Linked DNA regions of Homo sapiens: region 1 is linked to region 2. Evidence: fine-mapped expression QTL. A gene starts in region 2. The other region holds a variant in brackets. All regions are shown on one strand. Distances are from middle to middle.

Evidence for each region.
Region 1: its variant is fine-mapped to the expression of ADSL in whole blood (TOPMed, PIP above 0.99).

The regions. Positions count from the first base shown.
Region 1 is chr22:40,321,300-40,326,676 of GRCh38, reverse strand. It overlaps TNRC6B (trinucleotide repeat containing adaptor 6B), which reads right to left. Exons shown (of 23, transcript NM_001162501.2): 23 at 1-3,823. The coding sequence ends at 3,436. Among named protein-coding and RNA genes, the nearest start is that of ADSL, 23 kb to the left of the region's middle. The variant C/G (reference allele first, on the strand shown) is at 2,945.
Region 2 is chr22:40,343,659-40,349,016 of GRCh38, reverse strand. ADSL (adenylosuccinate lyase) reads right to left here and starts at 2,517. Exons shown (of 13, transcript NM_000026.4): 1 at 2,306-2,517. The coding sequence starts at 2,458. RefSeq lists enhancers at 1,462-1,974, 1,975-2,488, 2,489-3,002 and silencers at 2,175-2,264, 4,645-4,817.

The DNA.
Region 1 (5,377 bases), 22 kb after region 2:
TAAGCTGTTGTTTCTTCCTTCCTTCCTTTCTTTTGTTGCTGGGGTTGTGGGGACAAGGAGAAGGGTTCCTTTAAAAAAATAAAAATTACTAGGGGAGATTTCAGTTCAGTCTCAAATGGAAAGGAACAAAGTGATGGCATTCTCATCTATATACACCAAACACTCTCCCATTAAACTACACACAATTTCAAAAGAATCCATGATCGAGCTCTTACAAAGCTTAATCCTTCTCCCATATTTTTAAGATAATGAATTTACCTGTTGCTGCTAAATTGATAATTTTTAAAAAATATTTCTATGTGTTTTAAAATGTGTGATCCCCAGTATGACAATAATGTTTGGAGACTTTTCTTTTTACATTTTTTTAAGTAAAAATTGTTTAAACTTTCTGAAGTTTCAGGAACTTGTAAAAGTTTATTAACAGGAAAGAAACAGCCATCTCTCTAGGATAAGATATGGTTAAATAAACCATCTTCAAAAAACTGGCTTCCTACCCTAGAATTCCTGAGAATGCTTGCAAATTTTAAAGCAGGAAAACAAATGTTAAAAACAGAAACAAAAAACACTGTTAAATGCTCCCAGAGTTAGTCTTCATCTAAAATATATATTTATATGTATATATATACGCACTTTTTGGTCTTTTTTTTTTAAAGTTTTTAGTTTTTTTCCCTTTAAGCTTATGATGGAAGAACATTTTAGCTTCTCATGTTTATTTTTACATATTTCAAATCCCTCATTATGTCTTGTAAACAAGAGGGGCTCTAGCACCCGGCTTTCACCGTAGTATCGTAAGGAACTCAACTAACCCATAGTGCAGGTCAAGGAACCAACAGGCAGGAGGAGAGGAGGGTGGGGCAGGACACAGCAGTGAACCAAGAGCGGCAGTGGACAGGGTCGCCACTGGCTCGCAGGAGCCTTGGGATATGCTCCTGGCCCAGGGACACTAAGATTTAACCTTCTCTAGATGTCTGAATACAAGCTGCTCTTCACCTGGTGGTCACCGCACGACAGCACTTTGCTCCACACAGAGAGCGGTCAGTGGGGGCTGCTGGAAGCAGAGCTTTTGCATGGGGAACAGTGGTGGAAGGGGCACGGTGGTGATTCAAATTGCAGAGCAGGAAGAGGGCATGCTCAAGGCACCCAGCGGGGCCACGTCAATGCTGCAGATGCCAAGTGTGACCACCTACCCACAGAGGGCTCATGCAGGCTTGTATATGTGAACACTCACTTGAGTCATGCCTGTCAATCTCTTTTGAGGCTAGGTTTATAATCAACAGGGTAAGCCAGAAGGGCTACAGAATTTCCCATTCTTTGTCTCACAAAACCACTGAAATGCAAATAACTTGTTTTAGGCTTTTCCTATACACACCCACCCACCCACCTACACACAGACACAAGCTAAAAAGTCAAATACATTAGGCATTGTTGTATTGTATCCTTCACTGAAGACGCTAAAGAAAGAAAAACTCCCTTGTCCTCAATAGCAGCAAGTTACAGAGGACAGTAGAGGTCTGCTCCCACCAAGGGTTGGAATGGGCAGGTATTTGCTGGTACAAAATGTCGGCACTTTATGTTAAACAGCATAATGCAGACTGGGATGTCCACACAAGTGCTAGCACGTCACCGGCATCCATCCCCCCACCCTATCTGGTTTTTCGCCCCCTTCAGGTCTGCTATAATTCTCTTCACAATAAGCAGTTTGATACATTTTGATTCCGACATAAGTACATACATGTTGGTGATAACTGTAGATTAAACGTTGACCCCTGTTCGGCCCAGAGTACTACTACATTGATGCTTAAAAAAAAAAAAAAGTATTTAAATACCGAAATTAAAAAAGCAAAATTACAAGGTGGGGGGAAGAGGTCAAAAATCAAAAAAAGGTGCAATACTTAAAAGTCTTCGCTAAGTTATACCTGCCTAAGCAAAACCACATACACAGGAAATACACAACACAGAGAAACAAAAGGAAACGCTTGAAGTACACACTGGTTTAAGAACATTCGTTAAGTAAACGTTTCTGTCAGTGATGGCCTGGTGCTGTAACGCGCCACGGCCTGGCACAGGTAACGCTCGGCGAGAAAGGAGCAGAGGGAGTAGCTGCAGATGCTTTCAGGAGGCTGCTCACCACTTATTCTTTTCTGTTTTCATAAAATGAAAAAGAGAACCAACCAACAGAAATATGTAACTCAACTTCACCTAATTTTTTGAAGAATTTCTCAAACCTGATCATAAGGAAAGAGGGAACAAAGTTTCTCTGTTTTTGAGACATCGCATCATCAAAAGTTATCTTCCGTTCCCATTTCAAACTAACGAAAAGGCCTGCATGAAACTTAACAGATACTCAGATGTGCCTGGTGGCCATTCACTTAAAAAAAAAAAAAAACAGAAATAAACACACCGTTGCTCCAAGAGGTACCTCCTGCTCTAGTTTTTTGGACTTGGCAGTGCTCCACTCTACTGCTAGGTCAAAAGAACAGCCAGAGAAACCCCACATTCAGGCTAAGTTGCAAATGGAAAGGAGCTCCCTGCTTTCATCATTAAAAAGCACTCTGTTCATCTTAATGCAGCCCAATGGAGTTGCTTTAGTAGCAGTGGCTCTCCGGGCCTGTGTGTTCTCATAGTTAAAAAAATAAAATAAAAAGCAGATGGGCCGGCCAGCCAGCCTGCAGACTGTCAGCGATGCAGCTTTCTGAGAAGTCAGGGTGGGGCAGGGGAGAAGGGAAGAACACAGGCACACACACAGAGACAGAGAAGGATGCACGCGAATGCACATGAACACACGTGCACACACACACCAGAACGAGCATGCCTGGGCAGTTACATGTGCCAGAACACACTGGTATTTATCAACCAGCCAATCACAAATTTTTTCCTTTTTTTTTTTTTTAGGTTTTTTGTGTTTTTGTTTTTAAAGTGAGGCTCCGTCAAGTCTTCCCTCCCC[C/G]CTCCCCCAACAATTCTTTTGAATTTCCCTCCCTCCCAAACATGGTAGACCTAAGGACGGAAACACACCCAGTGCAAACAAAGTTAAAAAGCTATTTTTTTTCAGTATATATGTTTCTTAGCAACAACTTCCATATAACATGAAAAAAGTGAAAAACTAGAAACTAATTTTTTTAATTTTTTTGTGTTTAAATTTAAATGGTATGTGTACTTGCTTCACATTGTCTTTCTAGGTTGGCGTTCATGATTCAAGTATTTCAAGAGTGATATGTTCTCTTTTTGGATTCATATTCCAAACGAAAAAACTGAAGTTATAAGGGAGGCAACTATGTGCTCAGACAGTCTGTCAATGACCCACCTTTTTTTCTCTCCGTTTTCTTTTTTCCTTTTAAAAATGTATTTATTGCAAGTTGAAAAAAAAAACGAAAAGGTCAAGTTAGTGCTGCTGCTGTTCCAAAAAAGGTCACGAGGTCAGAGTTGAAAGTTCTAAGTTCAGATTGAATCCGACCCTCCTCCCAGAAGGTCACCAGGTAGTAAAGGAGCAGGGCTGCCCATCCTATGGGGATCTTCCACCGTTGGGACTCCCCATAAGCTAGAAGAATAGTTTGGGGGCCCCCACAATGAAGCGCCAGCAAGATCGGCCCCGCTGCTGCCACCAGCGCTGCTGCTCCACTGCCCGAGCCCAGTGGACCCACCAAAAAGATTCAGAGCAGGTCCCACGGGATCTGACTGGTTCTGGCCGGTCTCCAGCGACTGCCACCCCGCAGCTGGCGCACTTGGGGTTGCTGCAGGTGTAGGGGGCTGAGCTTGTGCCAGAAAGCGGCTGACTTCATCATCAGTGGCAAACTCAGCAAGGATGGTAGTGTTTCCCAACACACACCTGGAAGAAGGGAGGGAAAGAGAGCTATGGATCTCAGGAAAATCCTAAAGCATACGGAGGGAGCGACTGCAGTCCTTGACATTCAATGTGCAGTCCTTTGACTAGAAGCTGCCATATCCATGAACGCTTTTTAGAATGCAAAGTCCAAGCTCCACCCAAGACCTCTGGGTCCAGAACTTGTATTTCAACCAGACCGCCAGGTAATTAAGAAGTAATGATGTAAACCAACAAGGCATCACCAAAACTCAGGATAACCAAGGACTACTAGAGAATACTATATTCTGATATTTCTTGGTGTATGGAATTTATATATTCTAGACAACTTAGCTATCAAGAAAAACGTGTGTGTCTGTGGGGGGCTAAGAGGGATGACTGAACTGGCAGAGGACTCTGATACTGTAATGGTAGATACCCGTCATTATACATTTGTCCAAAACCATATACTGTACAAGGCCGAGTGAACTCTAATGTAAACTACAGACTTTTGGTGATAAGGAGGGGTTCAGCAATCTTGACAAATGCACCACTCTGGTGGAGGATGTTGATAATAGTGGAGGCTATTCATGTGTGGCAGCAGGAGATATGACAGAAATCTTTGTATCTTCCTCTCGATTTGGCTGTGATCCTAAAACTGCTCTAAAACAAAATAAATAAAGCCTTAGATAAAAAGGAAAGAAAAATATGGTCTCTTTCTTTCCCCATGTGAGTTATGAGGCAAGAGACCATACCCAAAGCATCGAAGCAACCTGGCTTCAGTCCCCGGAAGTGCTGCTCTTTCTCAGGGGCTCCTCGCTGCCTGAGCCCCCTCATCCCTGGCTTGCAGTGTGTCTGGCTTTCTGTCATGGCATCTGCAGCCAAGGGCAGTCAGGTCTTCTCCGTCCACCAGTTTGACAGTGGCAGGGAAGGGGATGGGCAAAGTCTGATCTAGCGCCACCTAATTTAAGCAAAGACCCTGCTACCCCCCAAGACCACAATATTTCATCATCTGCAAAGAGGCTGGAGTAAGCAGCTAGATTCTATTATGAAAAACAATGGCAATTCTATTAGCTGTGTGTTTTTTTTCTTTTTTGAGATGGAATCTTGCTCTGTCACCAGGCTGGAGGGCAGTGGCATGATCTCAGCTCACTGCAACCTCTGCTTCCCAGGTTCAAGCGATTCCCCTGCCTCAACCTTCCCAGTAGCTGGGACTACAGGCATGCGCCCCCACGCCTGGCTGATTTTTTGTGTTTTAGTAGAGACAGGGTTTTACCATGTTGGCCAAGATGGTCTCCATCTCCTGACCTTGTGATCTGCCCGCCTTGGCCTCCCAAAGTGCTGGGATTACAGGCATGGGCCACTGTGCCCGGCCCTAGCTTTATGTTACTTAGAATTTACTCACTACTTCACAAATTATTTACGTTTGGAATTCTGACGACTGGCCTCTGATATATACAGGACAATCCAAGCTTTGGTGGAAAAGACCCGGCACCTCCACACTCTCCACACTCGAGACTTGCAGATGCACGTGTGACGGTGCCATTCTTCGTATATGTTCTGGTGCATCTTTAATTCAGC
Region 2 (5,358 bases):
TTGCCAGGAAATTATATACAGCAAATGAGTGCAACTGAAAGCAATTCCAGGAGATATTGATGAGAAAATAAACACATTGATGTCTTACATTCATCCATCACTGGAAAAATTAGGCTGCAAAAAATAGCTGGCAGCCCACAGGCAGCTCGGAACTTAGATCCAAGGGCTGAATACAAACAGTGGTGAAACTGATTTAAACCTCACTTGAAACTTGCAAACAGTGACTCCGGGAAGGATCTTGCATCTTAGATCTTTTTTATCCAAGAAAGGAGCTACTAGCCAGATATGGCTATTTAAATTTAAATTGATTAATTAAAAAGTATTGGAAAATATTTATAAGTAAAAAGTCAGGCCAGGTATGGTGGCTCACATCTTTGGGAGGCCAAGGTCGGTGGATCGCTTGAGTCCAGAAGTTCTAGACCGCACTGGAAAACACAGTGAGACCCATCTCTACAAAACAACACAAAAATTTGCCGGGCGTGGTGGCGTGCACCTCTAGTTCCAGCTTGGGAGGCTGAGGTGAGAGGACAGCTTGAGCCCAGGATGCAGAGGTTGTAACGAGCCAAGATTGTGCCACTGCACTCCAGCCTAGGCGACAGAGCCAGACCCAGTCTCAAAACCTAAATATATAAATAAAAGTAAAAAGTCAGTTTCTCAGTCACACTAGCTGCATTTCAAGTACTCGGCAGCCACATGTGGCAGAACTGCCTGGAACCTTTACAGTCACAGAAGACATGACACCTCTGGGCTCCTTCCAAAGCAAAGCAGCAGAGGGCAGCACGGCCATACTGCTTCCTCCCCTCAAGCAATTTATCTTTTCAAAATTCATACTTTCCTTACTACAAATTTTCTGCATTCCTCCTAATCTCTTATTCTCCAAGTTTTTTCTTAGCTACTAAGTTATTATGCAATTTATGGTAATTTTGACACCCTAACAGATAATCCAAAGCCAAAATTGTATGCATTTTAGGCCAACACAAAGAACACATACTCAGACTCTACATTCCAATTCCAGCTTGAAGCCATTTACTAGCTTTGGCGACCCTGGCAAAGTCTTGAGTACCACTACCCTCATCTACAGAATAGAATATCAGATGAAATAGAAAGAGTACACACTAGTACATCACAAACCACAACACATGATTAAGGTCTACTACTATCGCTATCTACGCCAAGAGTTTATTAAGTTGATGCTTCATTCTTCCATCTGTAAAACAGGTACAGTCATAGTATTTCATACCTACTCTTCAGGGTTGTTTGGAGGATTAATAAGCAACCATGTGTAAAGGGTTAAGACCTGGGTCTCAGAAGGCACTATCTGAATGTCTGCTATTATTGTAGTGTATCGCCCAATATTTTGGAGGGCAGTGATAAGGGGAGGGAGGGAATCTAGAATGAAAGTTTCCTGTTTGGAGAGTTCCATGGTACAGGTCCTAGGCCCGAAGTCAAATTGTTTCCATGTTTACTGTGCCGTTTGAGAGGGCATTGCCAACTTGCTCGTTGTGGCACTTTCCTCTGAAACTTGAGGAGAAACATTATCGCTCTCTGGATCACCTTCAGTTTGCTTCAACTCTTCTGGAGCTATTTCTGAAACCGCTGGGCTAAGAAGTTCTCTATGCAGCCCTTAGAAAAGAAATTATAAACCCCGTTTAATAAACCCCTACCCGGAGTCTTCTCCTAAGAGGCAAAGCGGAGGCCAGTGAGGCAGAAACGGTGGCCTAGAAAACAAGCATTCCAGTCCTGTCACTAACTACACAGGCACTGTGGAAAACCAAGGGGCTACGTGCTCAGCTCAGGCTCTGGAGTGCACCCAGGTTCAAATCCCAGTTCCGTTCTTAATAGCTGGATGGGCTAGGGCAAACAACAAGCTGTCCGGGCTTTGTTCTCCCCTGCAATGTGGGAAAAACACCATCAAGCCTGCAAGATCTTCATGGATTACACAAGAAAAGATTAGTGAAATAATGAGCACAACAGTACGAAACAAGCGCTCGGTGTCTGTGGTTAGCAGCGTACTCCTGCGGGGATGGCCAAAATGAATTCCCTGAAACTACAGGCTGAATTTCTCCCAGCCTCCTCCGCGTCTCGAACCCTCTCGGACTGAGAACACGTGAGGCAACAGGTGGCGGCTCCCGGATCTCCTGCCCTTGCTTTCCTGGGGCCGCAGCTCCTCAGGACAGGGAACACCCAGCTGAAAATAGCCGGGCCGCAGCTCCGGGGTGGCTAAGCCCAGCCCGGAACAGAGCCCGGCACGTGCTGGGGCGGGCCCGTCCCTCCCGGCCCAGCCCCTCAGCCCGGGATCCGTTACCTGCTCGGCCTCCGCCAGCCACAGCCACAGCTGCCGCCATGTCCGGAATTTATACCTGTCGCTAAACACGAAGCACATCTCCGGGCTGGCATAGCGGGAGGCAAGAGGTGAGCGGTAGCTGTCGGGCGAACCATGATCGCCTCCAGCCGCCATCCCAACCCTGCGACCCCGCCAGGGTGGACTGGACCAGGGAAGAGCGGAAGCGGAAACCTGGAGGCCAGGGCAGGACGGGGCGGGGCGGGACTTCCTTCACGCGGTCTCGCTCTCTGGGTTCCGGGCGCCCTGGGCGCTGCCGGCTGCGGAGAATCTCCGCTGCTTCTGCCTGAGAATTGACTTGGTTCGCTTCTTTGACCAGAAACATGATTGATGCTTCCTACGTTACTTAGCCGCGCTACACTTTAGTTTTCCTGTCTGAAAAGAGGTACATTAAGACTTCCTTGGCCGGGCGCGGTGGCTCACGCTTGTAATCCCAGCACTGTGGGGGCCCCAGACCGGAGGATCGCTTGAGGCCGACAGATCGAGACCAGCCTGGGCAACACAGGGAGACCCTCCCGTCTCTAAAAAACAAAAAGCAAAAAAAAAAAAAAAAAAAAAGGCCTGCCTTTCGGGTTGTGCGGATTCAGTGTTAGAGCGGTGTCTGGCACACTTGGAAGGCCGTGTGTACGCTTGCTGTTACTCTTATTACTGTCGCCCCACCCACTCCTGCCCGCGGCGCACCGAGCTCGGCTCTAAGGAGAAATGAAGATACCCAAGGGAAATCGGCATTTACTGCGCCCCCAGTGAGCCGGCTGCGGTGGCCTACGCCTGTAATCCCAGCACTTCGGGAGGTCGAGGCAGGCAGATTTCCTGAGCTTAGGAGTTTGAGACCAGCCTGGGCAACACGTGAAACCCTGTCTCTACTAAAATACAAAAAATTAGTCGGGCATGGCGGCCTGTACCTGTAGTCTCAGCTACTTGTGAGGCTGAGACAGGAGAATTTCTTGAACCCGGAAGGCGGAGGTTGCAGTGAGCCAAGATCGCGCCACTGCACTCCAGCCTGGGCGACAGAGCGAGACTCCGTCTCCAAAAAATAAAAGAATTAAATAAATAAATAGAAATAGAAACACTCAAGTGGCCCCCCCCCTTTTTTTTTTTTTTGACAGGGTCTTGCTATGTTGTTCAGTCTGGAGTGCCAGTGGGGTGATCACACAGGAAAGGGTTCATCTGGAGCTGTAAGAGCCAGGTGTCTCAGCTGGGCACGGTGACTCACGCCTATAATCTCAGCACTTTGGAGGCTGAGCTGGGCAGATCGCTTGAGTCCAGGAGTTGGAGACCAGCCTGAGCAACATGATGAAACACTGTCTCTACAAAAAATACAAAAATTAACTGGGTATGGTGGTGTGCACCTGTAGTCCCAGCTACTTGGGAGGCTGAGGTGGGAGAATCACTTGAGCCCAGGATGTTGAGGCTGCAGTAAGCCATGATTTTGCCACTACAGCTTAGGCAACAGTGAGACCCTGTCTCAAAAACAAAACAAACGAAAAGAGCCGGGTGCCTGCACCCTCTCCACCTGCACTTAACTCCTAGCTCTCTGCCTTTTACGTGAGGAATCTAAAGACACTCAAGCCAGGTGTGGTGGCTCACGCCTGTAATCCCAACACTTTGAGAGGCCGAGGCGGGAAGATCGCTTGAGCCCAGTACTATGCTGCTTTGAAATTACTTGTTTCTGAGTGCCTTACTAAAATGAGACCTGTGGAGGAATTCCAATTTTAACTCCCAGTTTATTTGCTGAGAGTTAACTTCACTTTTCCAATAACCATAATATTTCTAGACTATTACAAGTACATGATTAAGGGCCAGGCACGGTGGCTCACACCTGTAATCCCAGCATTTTGGGACGCTGAGGCAGGTGGATCACCTGAGGTCAGGAGTTGGAGACCAGCCTGGCCAACATGGTGAAACCCCATCTCTACTCAAAATACAAAAATTAGCCAGGTCGTGGTGGCAGGTGTCTGTAATCTCAGCTACTTAGGAGGCTGAGGCAGGAGAATCACTTGAACCCAGGAGGTGGAGGTTGCAGTGAGCCGAGATCGTGCCACTGCACTCCAGCCTGGGCAACAAAGTGTGACTCCAACTCAAGAAAAAAAAAAAAAAAGTACATGATTAGATCTCAAGGCTTCAAGATCTTTTCTTTGACAATAACTTCTTTTCCAGTCACCTTCCCATTCCTGCTTTCATTCACAGATTCACTCAAAAACCTATGGAGCACCCATGACAGTGTTCTCCCTCCACACCTCTGGGCTTTCTTAGATGCTGAGTGACCTCCCGGCTTCTTTTTTTTTTTTTTTTTTTTTTTTTTTTGAGACAGAGTCTCGCTCTGTCGCCCAGCCTGGAGTTCAGTGACATGATCTCGGCTCACTGCAAGCTCCCCGTCCCGGGTTCACGCCATTCTCCTGCCTCAGCCTCCCTAGTAGCTGGGACTGCAGGCGCCCACCACCACACCCGGCTAATTTTCTGTATTTTTTTTAGTAGAGATGGGGTTTCACCGTGTTGGCCAGGATGGTCTCGACCTTCTGATCTGCCCTTCTCGGCCTCCCTAAGTGCTGGGATTACAGGCATGAGCCACCGTGCCCGGCCTCTTTTTCTTTTATTTATTTATTTATTTTTTTTTAAGACAGAGTTTCACTCTTGTTGACCAGGCTGGAGTGCAATGGTGTGATCTCTGTTCACCGCAACCTCCACCTCCCGGGTTCAAGCGATTCTCCCTCCTCAGCCTCCTGAGTAGCTGGGATTACAGGCATGCGCCACCACACCTGGCTAATTTTGTTTTTTCGTTGTTTTTTTTTTTTTTTTTTTTTTAGAGACGGGGTTTCTCCATGTTGGTCAGGCTGGTCTTGAACTCCTGACCTCAGGTGATCCACCCACCTTGGCCTCCCAAAGTGCTGGGATTTCAGGCGTGAGCCACCACGCCCGGCTGGATGCTGAGACCTCCTGGCATCTCTTTCAAAACTCTTACCAGAATTCAGTGTTGCTTGCCTTGCTCATTGATGGCAAACTCAGTGGGGCAAGAGATC